Homo sapiens: one gene and its partners. The protein of the gene in region 1 interacts with the protein of each later gene in a pairwise test. Each region holds a gene or a part of one and is shown on either strand. Other genes may lie near its edges.

Region 1 (7,028 bases):
ATCTTACACGACTTTGTGGGGCAGGGGCAAAGGCTGACCCCGTTCTAAAGGCAGTGGAGAGAGGAACAACCCAGGTCTCATTTGACTCCTTTTTCCTTCCCATCTCCCTGCACACTGACTGTCTCAAACTCTCACATTTTCCCCATCATTTAAACACTGTTTCCAACCCAAGGCATCAGAACAAGGACACCGAAAGCTATGCTAAAAATGAGAGGCAGGGGGTGGCCTGGCTGTGACTCTCTGGGAGGGGCAGGTAAAGCGGTGGCAGAGGCCGCAGAAATCGTGGCAGCCCTGTGATGACAAGCGGAATAGAACAGCCAGTTTTCAGGGTCTCCTAATAAACGACCTGGGAGAAATCCGTCTGTGGTTTCTATAAGTTTGGCCAAGATGATGACTGACACAGGTGTGGGGGGCGGGTGGGGACACTGCAAAACCAGTTTCACTTTATCACCACAAAATCTAACCTTGCCTCAGGGAGCCGACCTGGCCAAGGGCAAGTTTCACTTCCTCCTTTCTGGGTAGCGGAAGGACTCGGGCACAGAGGACACACCCCTCCCTGGAGCGGACAGGGAGGCCCACCAAAAAATCCCCTCCCAGAGATGCTCACCAATCGAATTGAGAGAGTTTGATCATTTATGTCTTTTGGAAAAAGATAAAAAAGCAGGAAAATGAGTGTAAAAGCCACCTACTCGGCGGTTATTTTCCACAGCTGGTGTGGTACTCCTGGTTGTGTCATTTTTCCACCTCTGGTGCAACGTCGAGGTGAGTGTCCTGGGCTCAGCAATGCTGTCAGGTTCCACGACAGCATGCACAGCCACGGCTGTGGTCTCGGGGCCGCCCGCACAGAGGCTCTCACGGGATGGAGGCGCTTTGTCTGCCACTGTGCTGGGTGCACCCGTGAGGAGACCAGGCCACGGCCCGGCACCAGGTTCTGGAGAGCCAGGAGGTGTGCTCTGAATCACACATGGGTGATGGCTGATGGGAGGGACGCAGGCCATCCCCTCCCTGCAGGTGACCCCACATGGGGGCCCGGAGGCTTCCCTGCTGCGTTTGTTCGCTTCCTCCCCACCCAAGTGCAGTGATTTCCTGGTTGCCAAGGTGGCCCCCCTGACGGCCGCTTCCAGTTCCATCTCCCTCCCCTGGGCAATCTCGTGGCTCCATGCTTCTGGCACTGCACACGACTGCAGGCCACCCAGAGAGGGTCTCACCCGACTCCTGCCCCACTCCTGCCGGGCTGCGTCCCTTCTGTCTCCTGGCTCAACATGGGCAGCCGAGCCGGGTATGTGCCACATGTGACCCTTGCCTGCACACCTGTGTCTACAGGACACTCTGGGCTCTCCCAGACAAACAGGGCTCAATCCAGGGGAGCCGGGGAGGTGGCAGAAAGGCCGGGCACCAAGAAGCACGCCTCTCAGAAGCTAGGATGCAAGAAAGCCTGCGGGCTCAGAGGAACGAGGAAGAGCGGCACACGCCAAGGTCACAGGGTTTTCCCACAGGAATGAACACCAGCAATGCGCCCCTCTCCGGAGGATAGGGGTGGACTCCGTTCTATCACAGGGAGAAGTCCACAGGGACTCTCCACCACAAACACCCCTGGGGATGCCAGGACACGGATATGGCTAAGCCTAGCCAAGGTAACCGCCAGGACCCAGCTCTGCTGACGGTGGGGCTGCCTGCGGGGAGCAGTGCTAAGAAAGCGTTGAGCAAATGCTCCCCGGTTGGCTCGTGGGCCAGGGCGTAACCCACAGTCTGATGCTTACTTCCCCCTTTTATTTCTTTGGATTCCAGTTCACGGTTGTGCTGGCAAAACAAATGCTGTCCTCGCCCCAACTCAAACCAACACAGAGGGGGAAGTGGAAACAATACAGAGATGTTAGAAGCTTCAAGGAAGCAAAGGCAAGAAAAACTCACATTACAATGAACACAGGCTTTGGGGCAGCGGTTCGTGGGACTCTGGAGTCAGAGACCCTGTTGGGAATCTAACGAACCACATCTGCTCCCAAGAGATCTAAACTGAATGGCGAGAGCACAGGCCGCCTTCTGCCCCCACCCGCATCTGGTCCATTCTGGGACCCTCTTGGAGCTCACAGATTCGGTGGGAAAAGTAACTGGAATGCTCTTCTTTGCAGGGTCCTTGGGTTGTCTGGGGCCCCCCAGGATCCCCCGTAAACCCCATCTCCACTTCAAGCACACTTCAAGCCCCACACGTATATCCCAGGCAGCGGGACATCAGCCACAGACACTGTCCTGGTGACTTACAACACCACGGCCCACGCCCACGCATATTGGGAAGGCGAAAGGCTGTGCTGAGCCGCACCTATCTCAGGCAGCGGGACATCAGCCACAGACACTGTCCTGGTGACTTACAACACCACGGCCCACGCCCACGCATATTGGGAAGGCGAAAGGCTGTGCTGAGCCGCACCTATCTCAGGCAGCGGGACATCAGCCACAGACACTGTCCTGGTGACTTACAACACCACGGCCCACGCCCACGCATATTGGGAAGGCGAAAGGCTGTGCTGAGCCGCACCTATCTCAGGCAGCGGGACATCAGCCACAGACACTGTCCTGGTGACTTACAACACCACGGCCCACGCCCACGCATATTGGGAAGGCGAAAGGCTGTGCTGAGCCGCACCTATCTCAGGCAGCGGGACATCAGCCACAGACACTGTCCTGGTGACTTACGACACCACGGCCCACGCCCATGTGCACTGGGAAGGCGGAAAGGCTTTGCTGAGCAGCACCCCTGAACGCCCAGGCACCTGCTGAGCACTCACCATCACAAGCTCCTTCTGGAAGGACTTCCGTTCTTTGTTCTCAGTGTTGTTACAGTCCTCCTTCAGCTTTTCTAGGACGGACGCCACCCGCTCGGGCTCACTATCCAGCTCTGCCCGGCAGAAAAAGGTGAGCGGCAGGTTCACGTAGCCCAGGGCGTCAGCGAAGGAGCGCCAGCTGCTGATGTTCTCCATGAGCAGGGTCCTCACGGAGGCATAGATGTACGTGAGGAATTTGCAGGGCCGCAGGATCTGCTCCAGCAGCACCGAGGTGCTCAGCTCGGGGCCCGAGCACAGGCTGGGCCGGGCCCTGCCGACCACCAGCACGTTCTTGGTGTGCACGAGGCCCACCCTGCCCTGGTAGTAGCCGATGTACCACTCCTTGGTCCACAGCTGGCCCCGGAGCCTGACCCGCTCCTCGCTGAGCAGGGCGATCCCGTCGCCCTTCTTGTACTCCAGCAGGTAGTGGTTCTTGTTCTGCCGCACCACAGTCTTGAGCAACTTACCAAACTTGAGGCTGGACACCGGGCGGTCCTGGAAAGTCGGGTACTTTGTAGTGGTGGCAAACGGGGACAGGATGATTTTCCCGACTTCGTTCTTCTTGAGAAACCTCCTTTGCCCGGAAGGCTTGATGGCACTTTTAGGGGGTGGCTGAGGAGTCTGGACACAAAACTGGGTGAGGATGGCCTCCTGGTCGTCCTTCACCTGAACCCGCAGCGTGAAGTCAGAGAGCTCGTTGGGGTTCTGGGAGGTGATGGGGAAGATCAGGCGGCTCACCTTGCCCAGCTTCAGCTGGAATCCTCGCACCACTTTGGCCTGCTCGCTGGCTTTGACCTCGTAATTCGTCATATTGGAAAACATACAGACCTTGAGATCCTGGGGCCTGGACAAAACGAACTGGTGCTTCCCCCACAGCTGCAGGGCCACCGGGGCAGGGTTGGGTGCCTGGCGTGTGACCTCGCTGACCAGGAGCGTCTTTGGGGCACAGTCATGCCCAAAAATGGTCACTACCGTCTTGAAGGATGGGTGGATGTGTTTAGGGCCGTAGAGACCCACTGTGACTTTTTTATTGATGAAGTCCCACACGGTGGAAGGGTAGAGGATGCTTGGGCCATGGGCCACGACAGCCACGTACATACAGGGCTCCAGGTTGTGCAGCTGTGCCTGGACCGTGTCCCCACAGCTGCAGTTGAGCGGGACGGAGACATATGGCCCTTCCTTCGAGTCGCTCCTCAGGCACTGGAGGCCCACTGTGCTTTTGCTAAAAAGGTCATTTTTTATCTCGGCTGACACTTTCATCTCCAAGATGATAGAGGTTTTCACCTCCAGGTTGCTCAGCTTGACCTCCAGCACAGGGCTGATGCTGCAGGACCTGTCACTGTTGAGCTCCAGCGGGGGGTCCAGCAGGGCTTTCATGGAGATCTGCTGGGTCTCCCCAGGGGCGACGTGGCCCTCGGGCACGTGGATGCTGATGCTGGTGTCAGGAAGCTGGACAGCACCCCCGGAGCTATCCAGCTTGCACACGATGTTTGTCTCCACGGCTTGGGTCTGGCCCCAACCAGGGCTTTGGCCAAGCAAGTCCAGGTCGTGGCAAGACCGGGCCAGCTTCCTGTGGTTTAGCCAGGCAGTTCGAAAATCCTCCCGGCTCTGAAATTGCTCGGGGGCAGGTGATTTCAAGCCGGTGAAGAAACTCGACGATGTGGGAGCATCGGACTTGGCTTGGAGGACGGAGAGTTCCGAGAGACTGTAGGAGCGCTTGCTTCTGAAGAAGGGGTTGTCCCGCCTGACCGGCGGCTCTGCGTGGAGTCCGTTTGTGACTGGAAGCTCATCGAAGATGTTGCCAGTGCTATTCGTGGTGGCTGAGCTGGATTCGGTGAAGGAGGATGTACCTGCGTCAAAAAGGAGCAAATCCACAGTACTTTTGGGATTCAGCTCATCCAGGCTGGGCATGACGGGCACGTTCCCATTCAGAAATGGATTGGTCTGGACCCCATTCCAGAAAGGGTTATTACTGTACATTCTGCCTGGTACTTTTTTGTCATCTGTCCATCCCCCGAGCAGCTCCAGCTCCTTGGCTACCTCGTCTGGGCTGTCTGGAAGATTATCAATCATACCGCTGTCACTCAGTGTTGAGTTCCGGTAGTTCAAGGGCTGCACATAGGAGGAGGGGATGTAGCCCATTTCGGTGGTGTTGTGTGCGTACCACCACTCACCGCCAGATGTGTCCAAGACGTAGAGATGGTCGCCCTTGGAGAACTTCAGTGTGGTGAAGTTGGTGGGGCAATAGTCCTTGATCGCAATCACTTCCTTTGCATTTCCGAAAGGTGTGGGGTTGTCTACGAGCAAGGCACTGGGAGAAGGCACTGTGCAAAACACAAAGAAAACAGATGGTGAGGGCAAGGCCGGCGGGGTGTCCGGAGAGCTTCCCAAAGGAGAGAGGACGGTGGTAAACAGACAGGTGCACAATAACCCAGGCAAGTCACCAACAGAAACAAACCAAAGTGAAATTCAGTAGGTAATTTACCTGGCCAACGAACTGGTTCCTGCTACTTGGTCACCTTCAAAATCGACAGCCTATGTCCGGCAGAAAGACCACAGAGGAGCCTCTCCATCACTCACAGAAAGGCAAATCAGTGCAATGGAATATTTAACATGCCCTACGCCCTAAACATCTCATTTTGGGCAACGTTAAAATTCTTCTTAAAAGAACTGCTACTAGATACAAAGAGAAACTGAATGTGATTAACTTAGAAAACACGGTGACACGGTGAGTTAGGTGACCACTGCATGTGATCAGGGACTGGAAATGAACAGATTCCAAAAACTCCCGCAATGACATGTATGAGCTGATTCCAAGCTCTGCCTCTGGATGGAAAGCTTCCCTCAACCTGCTTCTTAAATTTCCAAACTCAACCTGTTCCTCACCAAACTGTTTCCTCAGATAAAGTAAGAATTCTGAAGTCAGTTCCTTCCAACCTCTTTTATTCTTATTTTACTTATTTATTTATTTATTTATGAGACAGTGTCTCACTCCGCCACCCAGGCTGGCATGTATTGACATGATCTCAGCTCACTGCAACCTCAGCCGCTCAGATTCAAGTGATTCTCCTGCCTCAGCCTCCAAAGTAGCTGAGATTACAGGTGTGTGCCACCATGCCTGGCTAATTTTTGTATTTTTAGTAGAAATGGGGTTTCATCATGTTGACCAGGCTGGTCTCAAACTCCTGACCTCAAGTGATCCTCCCGCCTCAGCCTCCCAAAATGATGGGATTACTGGTGTGAGCCACTGCGCCTGGCCCAACCTCTTTTAAATTATCATTCAAAATCACAACATGAAAACAGACTGTCTACATACCTTGAAAATGAGAGATTATGCCTAGTCATAGCTCATACTATCATTGAACAAGTGTTGAAGCAGTCTGAAAAATTCCAACCCTTCAAAAAGTGAATCAAGTTAATTCATGGCTCCTGCCATTGAACTCTGTATGTTACCAATGTAGACGGCAAATGAAACAGCAAAAATAAGTCAGCCAAACAAGTGGTGTGTTTTGAAAAATAATGGATATGATTAAATGAGAAGATATATTCAGAAGATGAAGAACACTCTTTCTGAAGAAAATAAGCACATATACTTCTCCCCAGGACTCCCCTCCCCCACCTCCCAAACTGCCTCACTTACGGAGTCTGCTGACATTCTGGCTTCCCGTAATAAACAATTGAAAGAAAGAAAGGAAACGTTTCTTTCTTTCTTTCTTTCTTTTTTTTTTTTAAGTTGCCAAAGCAAATGACCAAAGAAAGGAATCCGTTTTTAGTTAAACTAAACCTACATCTTTTCTAATGTGATGAAGTCCACAGTCATCGTATTCTATCAAATTGCCCCCCCGACCCCAGAAAATCACCTGCCAGTTTCCTTTTCCTTTGAAAGGAAATAATCACACTTCCTTGGGAAAGTGTTAGGAAATCAGGTAGACAGTTTCTATTCATTTACATTAACTGGGTTACAGAGATGCGCTTAGCTGGGAGCATCCCTGGGCCTTGAAGCCCCACCTACCTCCTCCTGTGAAATTACAGCAGGCCCGTCTATCTGGGTGTCTCAGAGAACCCGGCTCTGGGATCACTAAACCCAGACTCGAGTGGAGCCCTTAGAAACTGTGTGATCTCCAGAGCCTAAGACTCCACTCATGGTGGACAAAAAGTGTATTTCCTCAATGAGCTTTGGAGAGGACAAAATGCAAAGACGTAGATAAG
Region 2 (7,028 bases), on another chromosome or scaffold:
GTGCTGGGATTACAGGTGTGAGCCACCACACCTGGAGCAGTAACAATTTTAAAAACTCATTTATAAATGACTACAAGTCATTTTTTTTTTTTTTTTTTTGAGACAGAGTCTCGCTCTGTCACCCAGGCTGGAGTGCAGTGGCACGATCTCGGCGCACTGCAGGCTCTGCCCCCTGGGGTTCACACCATTCTCCTGCCTCAGCCTCCCGAGCAGCTGGGACTACAGGCGCCCACCACCTCACCCGGCTAATTTTTTGTATTTTTAGTAGAGACGGGGTTTCACCGTGTTAGCCAGGATGGTCTCAATCTCCTGACCACGTGATCCGCCCATCTCGGCCTCCCAAAGTGCTGGGATTACAGGCGTGAGCCACCGCGCCCAGCCAAATAAAGTTTTTTAAAAGCTTTCCATGGCAAAAACCTGATAAGCAAAGTCAAAGCCAGTAGAAAATATTTGCAACTTATATCATAAACAAAGGGCTAATCTCCCTAGCATTTAAAGAGCTTGCAAAAAATGTTAAGGGAAATATATCAAACGTTCAATAGAAAAATGAGTAAAAGACATGAACATTGTACCAAGAGAGATATAAAAATGGCCTTTAAATATATGATGAGATATTCAGTATCACTCATAACAGGACAAATACAAAAAAACCATACCGAGATGTAGCCATTGCCAATGACATCCCAAGAACAGAACAACACGAGAGACTACCACAGGGATTCAAATATCAAAATCTATACAGTAAGAAATGGCTCAGGAAAGATAACTGGTTTCTTTAAAATTAAATTCAAAAGCAGGAGAAGAAAAGGAACTAGAGGAGAAACCTATGAATTAAAAAAGACTTTAGATATCTGGACCAATCACGACATGTGGATTTTATTTAAATCCTGTTTCTTTAAAAATAAAAACAAAAACAAACAAAAAAACACTGACATACTTAAAATCGGAAATTTGAATATTGTCTGATGATATTAAGAAAACAGACACATTATTTTTGGTGTGATAACGGCATTGTGATTGTTACCAAAAAAAGGAGGAGTCCTTTTCATTTAGAGATATTTACTGATATAAAATAAATGTTATTTATCTGGGGCCAGGCATGATGGCTCACAATTGTAATCCCAGCACTTTGGGAGGCTGAGGCAGGAGGATTGTGTGAGCTCAGCAATTCAAGCCTACAAAATGACAAGACATTATCTCTGCCAAAAAAAAAAAAAAAAATTAGCCAGGCATGGTGGTGTGTGCCTGTAGTCCCAGCTACTTGGGAAGCTGAGGTGGGATAATCGCTTCAGCCCAGGAGATTGAGTCTGCAGTAAGCTATGATTGTGCCACTGTACTCCAGCCTGGGCAATAGAGCAAGACCCATTCTAAAAAAAAAAAAGAAAAAAAAAAAACAGAAAGAAAGAAAAGAAAAAAGCAAGAAAGAAAAGAAAAAAATGTTATCTGGGATTTGTTTCAAAATAATTTTTAGAGAAGGGAATAAACGGAGGCACTGGTGGCAGGGTTGGTAGTTGCTGGGGCTAAATGATGGTGTTCATGGGATTGGTTACACTATTCTATTTTTGTGGATGTTCACAAATCTCCATAATAGAAAAGTTTTTTAAATCTATACTATACAGATATACCATTTCTCATCTATTAGACTGGCAAAAATTCAAAAGTTTGACAACACACTATACTGATGAGGCTGTAAGAAAACAGAAACTCTTACATTGCTGGCAAGAAGGCAAAATGGTAAAACCCTACTGGGTGAATCTGGTACTATTTAACAAAATCATATATGCTTTTATCCTATGATCCAGCATTCCTACTTGGTACTGTAATGTGAAACATTTTAGGTATAACAAGACTTCCAGACCATTATAATGTACATTATTGGATAATGTAAATATGTTGATATGATTATATTTAAAATAAAAGAAAACATTTATTTGTTATTAGGAACCAAGACTTTCACAGTGAGAGAAAAGAGGTACAAACAAAAAACAAAAGAACAAACTGTGTACAATACATCTGAATTAGAAATAATATGAACTACATCATTTCTGAAGATATGACAGTAATAGAAAATCACCACTTTGTAATCCCAATGTCTCACTGATTTACACAAGCATCTTCAATGAACACTAAAACCACTAGATGAAATGCTGTTAGGAAACAGAATATTCATAGTCTCAAAATATCACCCCACAGTTTTGTTACTAATTGCAAACAGGAAATGTATCTTTACATTGGAGAGATCTTATAGCCCCCACCTTTACCAAGTAACTTGGTATCTATTGAATCTAGAAGCTAGGTACTAATGGATACCACTTCTCTCTAAACAAACCAAGTATAGTATGATTCCACTGACATGAAATATGCAGAATGGGCAAATCTATAAAGCTAGAAGGTAGATTACTAGTTGCCTAGGTACAGGGGAAATGAGTTGTTGTCTAAGGATAGGAGGGTACAGGGTTTCTTTGGGGATGATACTAATATTCTAAAATTGATTGTGGTGTTGTCCACGTAACTGTGAATGCACTAAATCATACATTTTAAATAAGTGATTTATATAGTGTGAATTATCTCAATAAAGCTTTTTCTAAAAAAAGAAACGATTACAATTGTCTTTCATTCTAGAGTACATAAGAAACCCTAAGGAATATTTCATCTCCCAGACCTCTATTGTTGGAGTATCCCAGAGGGTGGTCTGTGGATCTCTTTCCTATATATACTCAGTGTCTTGGTGAGGTTACTCATTCTCACAGGCCTAAATATTGATGACTTCCAGACTGTTATCTCCAGCCTTGAACACTGTTGACCTCCAGACCCATGTATACAACTGCCTATTCTACGGTTCCACTTATCTAACAAGCTATCTCAAACTTAACAAACTGAGCTCCAGATATTCCCCTCAGAATCCTGATCCAGCCTTCCCTAGCTCAGTAAAGGGCCACTCCCTTCTTCCAGTTGTTCAGGAAAAGTATCTTGAAGTCATACTTAAGTTTTTCTCACCCTGTGGTAGTCCGTTCTTGCATTGCTATAAAGAACTACCTGAGGCTGGGTAATTTACAAAGAAAAGAGGTTTAATTAGCTCACAGTTCCACAGTCTGTACAGGAGGCATGACTGGGGACGCCTCAAGAAACTTACAATCATGGTGGAAGGCAAAGAGGGAGGAGTTACCTCTTACATCGCAGGAGCAGGAGGAAGAAAGAGAGAAGAGAGAGGTACACACTTTTAAACAACCAGATCTCAGGAGAACTCACTCACTATCATGAGAACAGAAAGTAGGGATGTCTGTCCCATGAACCAACCGCCTCCCAACAGGCGCCTCCTCCAACACTGGGGATTACAATTCGACATGAGATTTGGGTGGGGACACAAATCCAAACCATATCCTACCCCATGTCCAATCCATCAGCAAATCCTGTTATCTCCATCTTCAAATTATAACCAGAATCCTACTTCTCACCACTTGCTACCTCTCTGGTCCAAGTGACCATGACCTCCCACCTGGATTATTGCCAAGGGCCTCTCCTGGATCTGGCCCTTACCCCACTTCAATCTATTCTCAACATGGCAGTCAAAGTGATCCCATTAAAACATTTATTCAAGTGTTCACTCAATAAACACGTACACATATTACTACTCACAAAGCACTTTTCTAAATACCTAAATATTAGTTTATTTAATCCTTATAACAATTTTACAGATGAGAAAACTAATAAGGCACTTGCTCAAGGTCACATGCTTGGGAGTGGCAGTGCCAGGAGTCAAACTGGAGGAGTCTGGCTCTAGAGTCACACTCCTCAATACTATGTAATACCTCACTCTGCTCAAAACTCTTCAGTGCAATAGATGTCAACCTTGGCCACTTATCAGAATTACCTGGGAATTTTAAAAATTCCTGATGCCTACGTTAAAACACCACCTCCCCCACCACCGCCGACCAATTAAATCAGAAATTCTGGGATGGGATCCAGGCATCAGTACTTTTTTAAAGCTTCCCCAATCATTCTAATGTTCGGCCAAGGTTGACAACCTGTTTCAATGGGATCCCATCTCACTCAAAGTAAAAACCTAAAAACCAAAGCCCTCATAAAGACCACTAAGCCTCGTCTGCCCTGTTACCCCATCCCAATACCCACCTTACTCATTCATTTGGCCGCTGGACTCACCAGACAAGATTCCCACTCGGGGACTTGTAACTCAAAGTCACGTTCTCAGTGAACACTGCCTTTTAGATCTTATCTAAAATTGCAAATCCTCCAAACCGTTTTGCTACTTCCACCTTGGTTCCCCATGTTATTCTTCTCCTTAGCATTTATTGATTATCTAATGAATGATACAGTTTACTTATTTACCTGATTCTTGTCTGTTTCCCCACACTGTAATGTAGGCTCCATGACAGCAGGGATTTGTTATTTACTGTTGTTTCTCCAATGCCTAACACAGTGGCTGTCACATGCAAGACCCTCAGTAACTATTTGTTGAACGACGGATGAAGTAACCCATAATTACTGCATCAAAGATTAACGTTAAGTTTCCAGATAGAAAGTTGTTTCTTCCTCATCAGACAAGAATCATTTACCAGATTTAACTGATTTATTTAAATAATGGAAGGAAAAAGTTTCAAATACTGTATTTCCACTTAAATTTATATTTTTAGTGAAACTTACATGAGGCAAAACCAGACACAATTATATTATTAACATGCCTCCCAACCCAAATTTCTCCTTCAGCTTTACTCATACTCTAAGGTATAGTTAGATCTTACAAATCAGTCATAAATTAACATAATTACAGTTAACACCTCATCAGTCAGGAACCAGGAAGCCAAAAAATAAGGCAAAACACAGAAACAGCCTGAGTGATATAAGAAAAAGCAAAGAAAAATTAAATTCTGTACAGTGAGACCTCAACAGGCCCACAAGACTTCACTATTATTTGTTAAAACATGTCGAGTGGGACTAGTCCTGTTGCCCCACAATCACTGACAAACACAAAGCTGAGGATATATAGACATAGAGGATCAAATATCTGTAGAGTCAGGCATGGCTCTGGCACCCTAATCAGCACCATCCTTCCACTCTGCAAGAGCAGTTGACAGAAGAGAGGGAAAGAACTGTAAGTCTTCAGGGAGAACGCAGGGAAAAGAAGGAGGTCTTCACCAAAACAGTGGCAGGGGCCTCTAACAGAAATCACTCATGAAGATCAGAGGAGCCTAGAACAGACTTGCATCCCATTCTCCAGTTCCACATCTGCTTATGCAGCAGACTGAGTGACTGACCCCATGTGTCTACTTGAAAAGGGGGACAAAGAGAATTGATGAGAAATGGCAGGGCACAGAAAGAAGGCAGACTTAAGTAGTCTGTATGCCACTATTCGACATCACAAGGAAGTGAGTTTCCAGTGGGTTGAATAGAAACCACAGCGTACCTGGATTGAAGTTGTTTTGCCATTATCAAAATATCTCGCTGCAGAGAGAAAAGATCTCCACCCCGACTCACACACATTCACGTAACCAGTGGGTAAACTGACAGGATGGGAGCAAGCAGATGGGTGTGTAGGTTGGAAAAGGTTTAGCTACAGAAAATTTCATACCCAGAAACTGTGCAGCAGGAGTCTCCCTGCAAGATCTCACCAAAAATGCCAGTTTGGTTGCCTATTAGTAGACTGCAATGGCCTGCCACTGTTAATCAAGAGAGGACTCTAATAGCACCAGATAACAAACACTTGTCTTTTTCTACTTCTCTTCTTGACACATTTGTATCCAAATAGATCCCTTAAGAGGGAAAGGAAAGAAGTATCCCAGGAGCTTACCACAAGCCGTCCATACCCCAAGTGCTTCAGTAAGTAAGTGGCCTGACCACAGGGTAAGGAAGGGAAAAAAAACCTTTAAATTGAATATATATGAGATTGAATGTTCAAACTGGAATAGACTGCAATTTTTTGTTTTTGTTTTTCTGTTTTTTTTTTTTTTTTGGAGACAGGGTCTCACTCTCCTGTCACCCAGGCTGGAGTGCCACAGCACAGTCTCTGTTCACTGGAACCTCTGCCTCCCAGGCTCAAGGGATCCTCCTACAACAGCCTCCCAACTAGCTGGGACTACAGGCACATGCCACCACGCCCGGCTGATTTTTCTATTTTCTGTAGAGACAAGGTTTCGTCATGTTGCCCAGGCTGGTCTCAAACTCCTGGGCTCAAGCTATCCTCCCACCTCGGCTTTCTGAAGTGCTGGGATTACAGGCATGAGCCACTGAGCCCAGCCTAGAGCTTTTTGATAACTGTAAATGACAGAAAAGCTATCATTTACCCATGATGTTATGGGGGGTGGGGGACAGGGGGGTGGGAAAGAGCCTACAAAATACAGTTAAAGGCAGTGAATAGTGAAAATTAAAACTCATTAAAACTCTTGTGTTTGTTCTCAGTAAGCTTGGACTGCTGAATAACCTGATGACATATGCAATAGCATTCTCATCCTTAATAATGGGAGGGAACACCTGACATGGAAATTCTCAGGAGGGATTTACTGTACCGGGTAAGATGCTACATTAGAAGCCCTCTGACATCACTTCCAATTCTAGTGCCTGTGATCGTCTTTTCCTTCAAGAGGTTAAATTCAATCCAGAATCTAGAGTTCAATGGTTAAACCATAAAAGGCTAGGCTGCCTAAAGGGCTAAAAACCACAACTTTCTGGAGAATAAAGCTATCAGACTGACAAGCCTGGTAAGAGTTCCATGTAGGAAACAATATTTTGCTCTAAAACTTATTTAACTTAAAAAAATCTTAAATGACTAATTTTCTTTTATATCCAACAGAAATTCCAGTTCAAAGAAAGCTTATAAAATCCCAAAAACCCTATCTTCCTGAATATTATCAATTCAACTAATTAAAAGGCTTACTAAAATAAATAGCAAACATATGTTTGCTTAAGCATCTTCTAGGAATCACAAACTCACATATCCCTTATTAGACAGTACCCACAAGAAAAAAAGTTACTTAGGGTCAAATGGTTTAATATTGCTCAGTAAGTGTAAGAGA
Region 3 (7,028 bases), on another chromosome or scaffold:
GCTAGCCTACTAGATCTTGCCTAATATTTTGCACTGAATGTAAGAAAAATGTATTACAGACCATTCTCGTCAGATATTCTTCACTGAACCTTCTTTATCTCTTGCATCTAGTGGGTCTAGGTTGTAGATTTTAACCTCCTACATATTGCTTGTCCATCCTTAATTACATTTTGCCTGGACTATTGCAGACGCTCCTAGCTAGTTTTGCTGCCGTTGAGCTTGGTTTTTCTCAGTTCATCTGCCTACTTTGGTTCAAGTGATCTTTCAAAAAGGAAAAGACATGCTTAAAGTGGCATGCCCACGCAGGACCAGTGTGTATTGGTTGCTTGTGTTCTGCACAGAGGCACTGAAATCTCAGCTGTGTTCTGTTAAGCCTCCTGGGGTTAGTTGGTCTTGAGGAAGGGGAGCTTTTTCTCATTTCCTTTATCTCTTTGATACTCCAACAGTGAGGCACATTTTTCTAACCTGCTAGGGGTATCCTTAATGTGTCAGTGGTAGCCCTGATCCTCATCACCTGTGAGGTAAAAGTGAACTCTCCTAGGCTTGCTTCTCCCTGCCTCTTTGTAAATTTCTGACTCTTCCGGCTACGGCTCTGGGCTTTAGTCGGATCCACCTGCAGTTTTCCAGTGCCCGGCAGGTGTCAGGCTTAGATGCCTTTGCTCTCGCTGCTCCCTCTGGTTAATGCATCACCCACTCTCACCCCATGTTGTCATTCTCATCTTTCTAGATTCAGCTTCAGGATTATCTTGAAGCCATCCTTTCAGTGCAACTTCTTTGCTTCCATAAGAACCTCTATGTACATAGTTTGGTATATCCCATGTGGCTTGAGTTTACATGTGTCTGTGCTTAAGAGGACTTTAAAGGACATGGCTCATTTCTATGTCTTAGCACAGAGCAGATGTTTTTGAATGATACATTGTATGATTGAAGTCACTAACTTTCTTTTATCTTTGTTTTAGGTTCTGACATGAATAAATTTTGCAGAAGTCGTGTTCCTGCGATAAGATACAAAGATGTGACCTTCCAGTTGTGTAAAGCTCTTAAAGGCTGTTTAAGTATATCAAGTGTGCTAAAGAACCTGGAGCTAAATGGACTAATTCTGAGAGAGAGGGATTTAACTATTCTAGCAAAGGTAAGCTTTGTCTCATTTGGCTTGTAGACATTTGATAGTTGCTTTTAGAGGAAAAAAAACCTCAATAACATTTTTAACTTTTCCCCCTCATTAAAGGGATTGAATAAATCGGCTTCTTTGGTGCACCTGTCTCTTGCAAATTGTCCAATTGGAGATGGAGGTTTAGAAAGTGAGTTTAAATCTCATTTAACTCTTGTCCTATCAGGCTGGTTTCATGTTTCCCTACATGCCATGTTAATTCCTGTCTGTACCTTTTTTCTTACTACTGCCTCATATGCTTGTTCAAACCTTGGTCCAGTCTCAAGTCTACCATGAAAGCTTGGCATGCTGAATGTAATCTGAACTAACTTTACTTAAGTTTGTGTTAAACCACAGACCACACAAATATATACCATCTGGTATTCTCTGTTTTTTGTGTTTGTTCATCTTTTAGAGTTTTTCTTCAAGAAATATTTATGGGAAGGAAATAGCAAAATGTAAAGAGGCCGGGCGTGGTGGCTCACGCCTGTGATCCCAGCAATTTGGGAGGCCGACGTGGGCGGATCATGAGGTCAGGAGATTGAGACTGTCCTGGCTAACATGGTGAAACCCCATCTCTACTAAAAAAATACAAAAAAACTCACCAGGCATGGTGGCGGGTGCCTATAGTCCCAGCCACTCAGGAGGCTGAGGCAGGAGAATGGTGTGAACCTGGGAGGCAGAGGTTGCAGTGAGCCAAGATCACACCACTGCACTCTAGCCTGGGCGATAGAGCAAGACTCCGTCTCAAAAAAAAAAAAATCATCATTACTTTAAATAATTAAAACATATATACAATCAATTTTAATGCACTGTGGTATGTTCCAAAATAGGAAATATAAGCAAAGTGCTGTATAGGAGCATATAAAAGGCTGACAGACTTGGGGGGAAAGGGTTGGGATCATGGAAATAGTCACAGAAGGTGACTGTTCGTTGGGATCCTGAAGTCTTGTGTTCGTTGTGTGAAATAGTGGTCTGGAGGGGTAAGGAAACCTGCATTTCAATTTGAGGGAGCAGAGAGTTAAAAGGCCTCTGTCTTCTATTGTTCTAGTACATTAGGTGCTCTAGTATAACACCTAATAAAATTCTGGGTTTATAGTTGACACTGAATTGTTGGTTAATAACAGATTGAGGTCTGCTCTTGGAAATGAAAATAGGAAGAGTTTTATTTTTTTTATGTTTTTCTTTCAGATGTCTCAAAAAGTATATAGAACTTTACTGTGGTCTGGAGTAAGGTTGCAATATTCAGTCTATTCAATTTTGGCATCTAAATAGAATTGAACTATTGCAATAAACTGGAGTAACTCTTTGTTACTGACTTATTTTAGAATGTACCAATCAGTTGCTTAGGTAGATTGTAAATAGTGATTTTAAGAATACAACTATAAAATAGAAAAGATATAAGAAGAGCAAATAAATCAAGACTGACTAGGTTGTATATGCTCTTCATCTTATTGTATGTGGTTTTTTTTTCCATTTTAGTTATTTGTCAAGGTATAAAGAGCTCTATCACTCTTAAGACAGTCAACTTCACAGGATGTAATCTGACATGGCAGGGAGCAGATCACATGGCCAAGATCTTAAAGGTAACTTTATGTTCCAACTTTCATGAAAATGTGTTATATGATTGCCACACGTTAATATTTTGATACAAGACAGCAGTTATTTTTGTCTTTTGATACATATGGGCATTGCAGTTTTAGTTTTGTTTAAAGAATGTGACCAATTTTCAGCCTGGGGTTCTACCATTTATTAAAGGTAGTATGCTTAATCTTAGAAATAGAAGACCTAAAATATAATAATTAGATTTTTCTGTAAATACAGTTTGTAAAACAGTAATTTTAAAGGTGCCTTAACAACTTTATAGTGGTTATTACTACTGTATTTAGGATAAAATTACATAATAATGTGACATGAAGCCTTTTTAGTAATTTGATGGTGTAGATCGGGGTAGTCAAACTATGGCCTGTGGACCAAATCTAGCCTATCACCTATTTTTGTAAATAAAGTTTTGAAACATAGTCATGCCCATTTGTTTACATATTAACTATTGCTACACCCTACACTAGGAGAGTTGAGTAGTTGCAAAAGAAACTATATGACCCACAAAGCTGAAAATGTTTATTTTGGGGCCTTTACAGCGTAAGCCCACTCTCCGTGGGATAGATAATGGTTACTCATGTGGATTCTGAAGCCAGATGGCCTAGGCTAAAACCCGAGCTCTCTCCCATTTAATAACTTGTGACCATGGGCAAATTAGTTAACCGCTCTGTTCCTCAGTTTTCTTATCCATAAAATGTGTATAATAAGAAAACCTACTGTGTCTGTCATTGTTAGGATTTAATGAACTAATGTGTATAAAATAGTGCCTGGCTATCTAAGTGTTTGCTGTTATTTCCTCTTATTGCTTTTATACAGTTATTATGAATAGCAAATGACACTGACAGTTTTCATTTGACGGAGTCATAGGAGCTTTGAATCTTTTGTTTCAGAATGTAATGAGATTTTTTTTTCTCTTAAAATCAGTGTTTCCTGTTACCGAAATTTACTTTATGGATAAAGAGAAGTGATTATGTCTGTAAGATAATACCTGTGGTTAAAACTCAAACCACCAATTTCCGAAGGCATATCAACCTTGCTTTGTATATTCTAGGCCTCTAAATTTGGTGTGCATACCCTAAGAAATATGTGAGATCCCTTGGGTTAGGAGAAGAAAATATTAACCTCTATATTTTTGTATCATTTAAAAAATACCTATTGTTTCTGTTTGATTTGTAATATACATAAAATATGTATATAGAAATTCCTGTATATAGTTTATTAATAAATAACTTACATGTTAAATGTTTACTTGTGGGATGTCCAGTCAAGTGTTTAGAGACCACTGGAGGACAGAATGATATGATTTAGAGGCTCAGCAATGATAGAATTTAGAACCAGTACCTTCACTTGGCATATAAAGAAAATAAAATTCTTAGAAGTTAACTAAGTTGTCAGTTTACATAAAGCAATCAGTAACAGGTCATTAGTGGTTAGGGTCACATAGCTAGTCAGTGACAGACTAGTATCTGGGTCACTGGACTCCTTACTCAAAATCTACTATTTAATCAGTCTGTCAGATTAACCCACCTGGCATATGTACCTGGTGTGTGTGTAAAGCTCTGATGTAATCAGCTGTACTTAGTTCCTTTTAGTGTTCCTATCTCTTTATCCAAGTGTATTAATTTCATCTTATTAAATCTTTGAAGTATCAGACCATGAGAAGGCATGAAGAAACCTGGGCTGAGAGTCTTCGCTATAGGAGACCTGATCTTGACTGTATGGCTGGCTTAAGACGTATCACACTGAATTGCAACACACTTATTGGTGACCTAGGTGCATGTGCTTTTGCAGACTCTCTCAGTGAGGATTTATGGCTGAGAGGTAAGTTAAATGAACTTGTAAGGTGGAAAATATTGAATTTTTTGATATTAAATATGCTTAACTCTTGGCACAGTAATGTTGTCCGAAGGTTTTTTAAAAAGCCTCTTTTTTCTAATAGGTTTTATTTTGTTTTTAAGCCTTTATAAAAGTTATATATATTCTTTATAGAAAATACCAAGTAACAAAAAAAAAAAAAGTACATATAATCTCAATGCCTAGAGATAAACTGTTCATTTTGGTGTATACACTTTCAGTATTGTTTTTTCCTGCAGATACATTTGTGTGCTTAGAGTTACAAGAACAGAACTATAGTGCACTTACCATTTTGTAACCCTGCTTTTTTTATTTAATGATGTATCATGTAGTACTCTATTATATTGAGGCATAATAGTTTAATTCCCTACTATTTGATATTTAGGCAGTTTGTGCTTTTCCCCTGTTATAAACAACTCTGTAGTAAACTCCTTATGTATACATCTCTGTGTCCATTGAAGTTACTTTTTTTTTTTTTTTTTTTTTTTGAGACAGGGTCTTTCTCTGTTGCCCAGGCTGGAGTGCAATGGTGTAATCATACCGCGCTGTAGCCTTAAACTCCTGGCTCAAGTATCCTCCCACTATACCCTCCGAGTAGCTGGCACTACAGGTGCACACCACCATGCCAGGCTAATTTTTGTGGAGACAGGGTCTTGCTGTGTTGCCCAGGCTAGTTTCAAACTCCTGGGCCCAAACAGTTCTCTTGCCTTGGCCTCCCAAAGTGCTGGGATTCCAGGCATGAGCCACTGTGCCCAGCCTGAAGTTACTCCTGTAGGATAAATTACTAAAGTTGAGTAACTCAGTATAATGTATTTCTTAAAGACTTTTGATGCATGTCACCAAATTGCCTTTCAGAAATGCTGTGCCATATTATAGTCTCATAAATGCTGGATTGTGTCTATTTTAAAACCTTAAACTTTACAAAAATGAGAACTCCCCTGCTTTTTCTTTTTTGATGCAAATGGGATTGGTCTCTGAATTTTACAGCTTTTTTCACTCAGTCTAGCATATCTTAAATCAGTAAGTTTACATTTACCATGTCATTTTTAGTGACTCTTCAGGGTTCCATTATGTTAATATGCAATAGTACACTTGGCTTATCCGTTCCTATTAGATATATAAGCTATTTCCAGTTTTTCATTGTTATAAACAGTACTTTGATACGTGTTGTTGCCCGTGTCTCTTATAATTTCCTTCTGGTAAATTCTTAGAAGGAGAGTTGCTGTGTTAACAGAGTCTGCACATTTTAAAGGTTTTTTTAAAATGTGACCTTCGCCAATCTGATAGAAGCATAATCACATTTAATTGTTTTAGTTTATATTCATTTGATTTACTAGTGAGATTTACTGGCTATTTTTATTAATTTGGCTAGGTGGATAATTACATCCTATGCTCATTCTTCTGCAGCAAGAGTTTGTAAAGGTTTTACCATATTCTATCAGATCCATATATCTGACTTATTTCTGTGTGTCTTGTGGTGTCTTAGTCAGTTAGGGCTTCATAGAATATTCTATATTATATATAGTATATATTATATAACTCCATTATAGAAGCATATAACAGAATTATATTCTGGGTGGCTTAAAGAGAAGACATTCATTTCTCACAGTTCTGGAGTCCGAGAAGCCCAAGATCCAGATGCCAGTAGATAGGTGTCAGGTGAGGGCATTCTCCCTAGCTTATGGAAGGCTTTTATATCCTTAAATGGTGGCGAGAGAGAACTCTAGTCTCTTTTTTTTCTTGTAAGGACACTAATCCCATGATGGCTCCACTCTCAAGACCTCAACTAAACCTAATTACCTCTCAAAGGCCCCAATTCCTAATACTACTACCCTGTTGTGGATTAGGGTTTCAATATACATTTTTGGGGAATACAGACATGTAGTCCATAAAATGAGATTCTGAAAGACTTCAGTTATTTTAATGTAATGGTATACACGTGCTTTTGCTCTGATGTAATCTTTTTTTATGCCTGTACTTTTGTGATAATCCTTTTGAGTTGAAATGAGTAGATTGTTCAGCCTCAGTATTACTAGTATTCATGAGCATTTGTTTAGTTCTTTGACCTTTTACTTGAGAGAGAGTTCTTGACCATTATTTTTTCATGATAGGTTTTTAGTATATAATCTCTATAATCTCTATTCACACATTCTTTGGATTCATTATTTCTATCTCCTTAGAGTTCTTTCTTTGTCATTTTTATTCTAAAACTAACAGTTTACATTTTTGTATTTTCTTTTCACTTTTTTAATGTAATTTTTTGAGAGTCACTTGGAATTTGAATTTGAATTTGATGATGAATCTAGTGCAATTTCTGAGCTCCACCCAGTTTTTGCCTGTGATGTTTACACTGCCACTAGCATCCTTGTTAATTATGAACAAATATTCATTCTGTGATGTTTTATGTAGAGTTATTTTTCAA
Region 4 (7,028 bases), on another chromosome or scaffold:
TATAGTAATTCAGTGCAGAAACATGCTGTACAGGTTTGTAGCCCAGGAGCAATAGGTTATACCATATAGCTTAGGTGTGTAGTAGGCCATACCATCCAGATTTGTGTAAGTATACTCTATGATGTTTGCACAATGATGAAATCACCTAATAACACATTTCTCAGAATGTATACCCGTTGTTAAGTGACTCATGACTGTACTTTAAAATGGCCAACTTTATGTTATCTGTATTTTACCACAATAAACAAAACAAAAAAGGTTTCAGGGTCATCTGGGACCTTTTTTTATTTCTCTTTCAATGTTCAGCATACCAATTCAAATATCAAAAACTCTAAGAAGTCCTGTAAGTAATCTGTATAACTTTATATAAGTCAATATTTTTTCAACTTATCACATTTCTATAAGTCAAAGACACACAATTTCACAGTTTCTGAAATAGAAATAAATCTTTACAATTTATGTGTACAACTGTTGTGATGGTATTCTTTGTGTGCCTAGAAGTGATTATTAAGCTGTAGTGCATCTTATCCACTGTCTCCTCAAATCAAGGAATTATGGAATTTTATTGCAGAAACTTTTGTTTGAGGCTCATAGTCTACTAATACCTCAGAGGACCCAGGTGTTGTCTGCTGCTTACAATGGTAGTCCCCAAAGTGGAGTGTGTGGGAAAAAAAAAAAAATCACAACTTTACCATTCTTTCATAATTTTTATATATAGGTAGCTATCTATCTATATAAAACAGTATACATAATATATAGTGACAAAACAAATGTACACAGCATATAAGGACAAACAAATCTAACTATACATATAAAACAATGTATATAATATATAAGGACAGTAGTTAAAAAAAAAAAAAAAAAGAGAACCTACTCTTTTAGGGCTCTGCTCTTGTATAGCTAGCGAGACCTAGAGCTGAAACTCTGCCCTAGCTCCAGGTTACCTTTTCTCTCTCCAGATATGAAATGTGAAGCGTGGCCAGGGGCACTGAGTCAGGGATGCTGAGCTTGCAAACCTGCCTTTCAGAAATTCTTCATCTTTACCTCTTAAAGCAGTTAAACCATCATTTCCTTGAAAAACTTAGAATATAATATGCTCCTTAAATTGTGTCAGGGTACTAATCCTAGAAGTTATCAAGTCTCTCATTTTAGAGTCTTCATAAAGTATTAAAAATGCAACTTAAGGCCGGGGACGGCGGCTCACGCCTGTAATCCCAGCACTTTGGGAAGCTGAGGTGGGCGGATCACGAGGTCAGGAGTTTGAGACCAGCTTGACCAACATGGTGAAACTCTGTCTCTACTAAAAATACAAAAATTAGCCTGGCGTGGTGGCGCGCACTTGTAATCCCAGCTACTCAGGAGGCTGAGGCAGGAGAATCGCTTGAACACGGGAGGCGGAGGTTGCAGTGAGCCGAGATCACACCACTGCACTCCAGCCTAGGTGACAGAGTGAGACTCCGTCTCAAAAAAAAAAAAAAAAAAAAAGAAACGCAACTTAAAAGAACAGAAAACTTCACCAACAAAACTATTCTTTGAACAGGCAACAATCATAGAGCAACGCTCTTTTGAGTTCTCCTCAGATGTGACAGACAAAATACTAACAAGACCATACATTTTCCTAACTCAAGAACCAGACTATTTATGTGAGCCCAAACCTAGAAATATCAATAACTTGGGCAACTGTAGAAACAAAGAATCCCAAATCCCAGGAGCCAACTGGGTATGGTGCATTTCCTCTGATACTGAAGGCACATCCTTGATCCTATTTCACAATGACAATGTCCAGTCTAAAAATGTGGCAAAAGGGAGAAGCAAATCTAAAAGATCAGAATTTTCCAGGTAAGTGTAAAAACTGTTAGATGTTAATTCTGATTGCTGGTGGGACACATTAATGAATATTGTTTTAAATAAAGTTAAACCAATTGTTTTGTTTTCTCTAATACAAAATGTTGGTTTGTATACTATAAAATTATTTCTTCTCTCATGCCACATGAAATACTCCAAAAATACTCTGCTTTGAAGATTGAATCTTACACAAGTTCTGGTAAAAAAAAAAAACCGTAACCTTTCTGCATGTCCAAGCATTCAAGCACCCACCCCCGCAACCCTGCCCTGGGGCCTTTAAAAAAAACAACAACAACAAAAAAAACCTTGTCACCTAAAGTGACTGTGGTAGAGGCATTTGAGAATTTCAGACAGTATCAAAGAGATATCTGATCTAAACAAACAAATGAAAACACTGCCACTTCCAATCTTGAGCCAGCATCATGGTTGCTTAAAGGTATGTTAAATAACCTATCCTTTGTACTTTGGATGTAAGTAGCCATAGTTTAAAAAGTGGTATGGTTTAAAAAAAAAAAAAACCACTCTCATTTCAATCCAAGGATTATGAAGACTAAATCGGAAAATCAGACAAATCAGAAACAAATCTAACTTTTTTTTTGAGACAGAGTTTTGCTCTTGTCGCCCAGGCCAGAGTGCAGTGCACTGCAACCTCTGCCTCCAGGCTTCAGCGACTCTCCTGCCTCAGCTTCTTGAGTAGATGGGATTACAGGTGCCCACCACCATGCCTGGCTAATTTTTGTATTTTTAGTAGAGATGGGGTTTGACCATGTTGGCCAGGCTGGTCTCGAACTCCTGATCTCAGGTGATGTGCCCGCCTCGGCCACCCATAGTGCTGGGTTTACGGGTGTGAGCCACTGCATCTGGCCCAAATCTAACTTTTAATAAGGTCATGGTATAAAACAAATATATTTGTACTCTCACCTATTCCATACTCACCTTGTTATACTAGGTTCTCAGTCCTTTGGAAATACAAAATGTTTTCAAAGTTCCTTGACACCTATTTTGCATTTAAGGGTACCTTTTATCCCAGCTGTTGGAGATTTCTCCAAGTGTCCATACTTTGAACAGAAAAGTCAGAATCCTGGGAATAACCATCTTTAAAGATGCTTTAAAGCCCAGAGTTTTTACCAGTGTTTCCCTGTGCCTTTGCATGTTTATCTAGAATTCCAGAGGCCTAAAATAAGGATCTAGAGCTATTCTAGGACATGCACTGCTTGGCTCATTGCTTCATTAACCTGACCTAGTTTAGCAAAAAATTTGCCAGCCCTCCTTCCATGAAAGTATTCACTCAGCTACTTTAATGGGGAATGTTAACAGTAATCTGACTCAAGTTTTTCAAAAGATTTTCTATTCTCCCTGTGGCCTTTACATCAGGGAAATATATGGGCAGGAAAAGGGAGGCAGCAACCTCTATGCTAGTTTCTGGAGAGAAACTATGGTATGAAAAGACTGCAAGTCCATGTGCTTTTTAAAAAGAAAAGGTCACAGATACATACCTGTTTCATCCTTGCTGCAGCTCTATTTGAAAATAGAATCGACCTCTCCTTTTGGAAGCAGGATGGGCACATTTCGAGGGCTCGACTATAAGAACTTTCAGCTTCTATATAATCTGAGGATAAGAGAAAGGATGAATGGTCATTTTGATTTTATTCCTGATACTACTATATTCCACAGGATCTCAGAAGCACTGTTTTCCATTCATAGGATGAAGGTTTTGAGTTAAAAGATGGTAACAGTCTATTAAGTCTGGCGCAGTAAAAATCATTTCTTCTTTTCTTCTCTCTTTAAAGGAACAGTGCTTGCTTGTGCCAATCTCACAGGCTGTGCTTGGTGAACTGACAGCTGAACATGCTGTCAGTGACAAGCCCTCAATACTCAGGAGTCCTGGCATTCCCTCAATGTTCAGTTTTCATTTGGCTGGGCAATTCAGAAAGGAGTTTTCAAAGGAGGTTACAGAACTGGACAGAGGAAAGAGACTAAACTCTGGGATCCATGGCCTGAGATAAAGAAAAAAATTATACATATTTGTTTTCATTAAATCTGTTGTGCTTTCATACAGTCAACCTGGCTAAAACAGCATCCGTGAAATGTTTGAAGAGAGACATTTGATAGAGCTAAAAGGAACAATGTAAAAATCAATATTTAAATCAAGACCTTAAAAGAGAAAATGGTGAAAAAGAGAATTATGGTCAGGATACTAATAGAAAATTGCCTATGTACTCCTTTCTCAGGTTTGAAATATTTAATATTAACATACAAAAAATATGCTTCCAAAATTAGAAGTGTTTATTCTATTAGAAAACAGTATTAATGATTACTAAACCAAGATATAGGAAAAAAAAAAAAACCCTAAAATCTGAAATCAGGTAATAGGGTAACTTTTGGAAAACAATAAGAAAAAAATTAAAAACCTGAAAATAACTAGCGGAAAATGTTAACACTCCTAGATTTCTGAAGCATATACACTTTAAGATGTGACAGAAGACTTTTGCTCTAAGATCAAATAGTTACCCCAAATTATCAGAATGAACCCCACCAACTTATTTCTAAGCAAATGTAGAAAATGCAGAAGGACATGAAGAATCTCCCTACTTAAGGCATCCAAAGAAAATGGCACATGAAAGAGCAACCTTTCTGAAGCAGTTTGGAGAATTTAAAAAAAGAAAGAAAGAAAGAAAGAGCAACCAAAGGACAGGCAGCCCTAGGCCATACCAGAGCAGTCAGGCTGCTTTCACAGCCCCACAGCAAGTGAGGAGCGGCGACTCTGCTTTCACAGCAATGCAGCACATAACCTTTAATATTCCAGGTTAGTGTTTTCCAAAGCAAGAGCTCAAGAGTTTTACCCCTGATTCTAGACTAACAGATAGTGGATTACAGAAAGACTATGCATGTGCCAAGAGACAAATGGTAACTGGTCACCATCAGATGAATAATTTGGCCTGGTTAAAAACTCAAAATGCCAAGGTACTGGGAAGCAACACTGTATTGTGAAGTCTGGTTTTGGGGTTTCTTCAGATGTTCTTTGGGGTTTCTTCACAGACTCTACAACAGGATGAGGAGTCAAGATGACCAGATTATCAGTGCTGAAAGTCGTCTTACCTCCTTTCTTAAACTGTTCATTTCCCTCCTCCTTTAGTCTAGTGCTCTCTTCTCTTCTTTTCTGAAAGACATCAGAGAATTACATAATTTCTCACAATATTATTATAAGTGAACAAAAAGGTGAGCTTTCCTTATGCACAAGTCTATTTAATAGGCAACAGTCTGACTTTTGAGAACTGCATCAGTTTCACCAAAACCTTGTACAGTGATAGAGGAAAAAAAACACATGACCATCAGGCTAATTATCAATTGCATTCTTGATGTTTAAAACAAAAAATGTAGGTCTTCTTGGCATGTCCTTTGCTTTCTATGTTTCTATCTTTTGCAATGGAATGATAATTACAGTATCACTTAATTTCTACTTACTCAGAAATGAAACTAAATAACATACCCACTGGTGTGCATACCAGTGTAAATTCAAATTGTAGCTTCTAGTACTTACTAGTTATGTGGCCTCGGACAAGTTTCAGAATCTTTCTGAGCCTTAGTTTCTTCATTTCAAAAATGAAGCTTTAATAGTATTATGGACTACTGTTTAATGGATTAATGTCATAATATACATAAAGCTGCCCATACAGTGACTAGCAAATAAGGGCTCAATAAATAAGCTATTATTTTCTGTGAAATAAGTACTTTAATCCTTATAAGAACCCTTCATGGTTTGTGTCATGAAGGAGACACAGTATGCTAGGAGAGCACATTTGTGGGTACAAGCCAAGTCTGTAGGGTTAGGGCAGTATACTGTTAGCAGGTTAACATAGGAAAATGTGAAGAAACCTAAATAAATAAGTCTGTCTTTTCTTAGCTTATTCAAACAACTCAGAAACTCACATAGATGGCCAAAAACTCATCAAACACAAAGGCTGAGAGAATGTTATCCTGCAAAGCAAAGTAGACGCATGCTGAGTGTGTGCACTTTTTTGTGGAACATCTTAACAATATAACTGGCACAAGCCAAACCAGAAGAGTCTGTATGCCTGCCACCTTTTGACAGTGCTTTAAAACAAAAACAACAAAAAAACCCCAAAAACAGAAAATCTACCAAAGTCCCTTAAAAAAAAAAAAAAAAAAAAAGAGATAGGGTCTCACTATGTTGTCCAGGCTAGAGTGCAGTGTCTATTCACAGATGTGATCAACACACACTATAACCTTGAACTCTTGGACTCAAGTGATCCTTCTGCCTCAGCCTCCTGAGTAGATGGGACTATAGGTGCACACCACTGTGCTGGGCTCTTTCCTCCTTCTTGAAGCTTCTGATTAAGTAATTTCAAAGGGAGGAAATACAGTTAGCATTCTGATTAAGTAATTTCAAAGGGAGGAAATACAGTTAGCAGGGTATTTCATGCACAAGAGAAGCCTGGAACCTAAACAATTGGTCCTTTTAACATGAGGAACTGATATGATCTGTGTTCCTACCCAAATATCCCCACGGGTCAAGGGACGGACCCTGGATCATGGGGACGGTTCCCCCATGTTGTTCTCATGATAGTGAGTTCACTTTCATGAGAACTGATGGTTTTCAAGTGCCACACTTTAAAACCATCAGCTTTCTCTTCACTTTCCGCCATGATTGTTAAGTTTCCTGAGGCCTCTATAGCCATGTGGAACTGTGAGTCAATTCAACCTCTTTTGTTTATAAATCACCCACTCTCAGGCAATTCTTAATAGCAGTGTGAAAATGGATTAATACAGGAACCAAAATAAAAACATTCTTTCTCTGGAAAAGATTTGTCAATATGCTATTGATGAGACCGGGTATTTCCCAAATGTCTTATTATTACACTATGGATTAAACAGAGCACTTGATGAATCTCAGTGAGGAAACTAAAAGGTAAGTATAGAGTGAATCTAATTTTTATGGTACATACTATGTGCCAGACACACAGCAGGTACAAATAACAATTCATTTTAAGATATAACGTATCTGAGGGAAGGGCTATTCTAAAGGAATTCAGAAAAAAATAAAATATAAGAATATGGCCATATTTACCTAGTACTACCCATAAGAAAGATGCTTAGATTGTAATGATCTCTACTGTATTGATTAGGGTTACTGGATGCAAGCAAAAGACTATCTTAAGCAA

What was found.
Region 2: the proteins of SH3BP4 (region 1) and PLEKHA1 interact in a two-hybrid assay, tested with the Homo sapiens proteins (one study listed by BioGRID and IntAct).
Region 3: the proteins of SH3BP4 (region 1) and CEP78 interact in a two-hybrid assay, tested with the Homo sapiens proteins (one study listed by BioGRID and IntAct).
Region 4: the proteins of SH3BP4 (region 1) and TTC1 interact in a two-hybrid assay, tested with the Homo sapiens proteins (one study listed by BioGRID and IntAct).

The regions. Positions count from the first base shown.
Region 1 is NC_000002.12:235,039,003-235,046,030, reverse strand, and holds part of SH3BP4 (SH3 domain-binding protein 4), read right to left. Parts: intron 5,144-7,028; coding exon 2,784-5,143; intron 1-2,783. UniProt on the Homo sapiens protein: May function in transferrin receptor internalization at the plasma membrane through a cargo-specific control of clathrin-mediated endocytosis.
Region 2 is NC_000010.11:122,377,680-122,384,707, reverse strand, and holds part of PLEKHA1 (pleckstrin homology domain-containing family A member 1), read right to left. Parts: intron 1-7,028. UniProt on the Homo sapiens protein: Binds specifically to phosphatidylinositol 3,4-diphosphate (PtdIns3,4P2), but not to other phosphoinositides. May recruit other proteins to the plasma membrane.
Region 3 is NC_000009.12:78,239,064-78,246,091, forward strand, and holds part of CEP78 (centrosomal protein of 78 kDa), read left to right. Parts: intron 1-959; coding exon 960-1,132; intron 1,133-1,228; coding exon 1,229-1,301; intron 1,302-2,632; coding exon 2,633-2,736; intron 2,737-4,398; coding exon 4,399-4,573; intron 4,574-7,028. UniProt on the Homo sapiens protein: Centriole wall protein that localizes to mature centrioles and regulates centriole and cilia biogenesis. Involved in centrosome duplication: required for efficient PLK4 centrosomal localization and PLK4-induced overduplication of centrioles.
Region 4 is NC_000005.10:160,033,117-160,040,144, reverse strand, and holds part of TTC1 (tetratricopeptide repeat protein 1), read right to left. Parts: intron 5,006-7,028; coding exon 4,945-5,005; intron 3,455-4,944; coding exon 3,342-3,454; intron 1-3,341.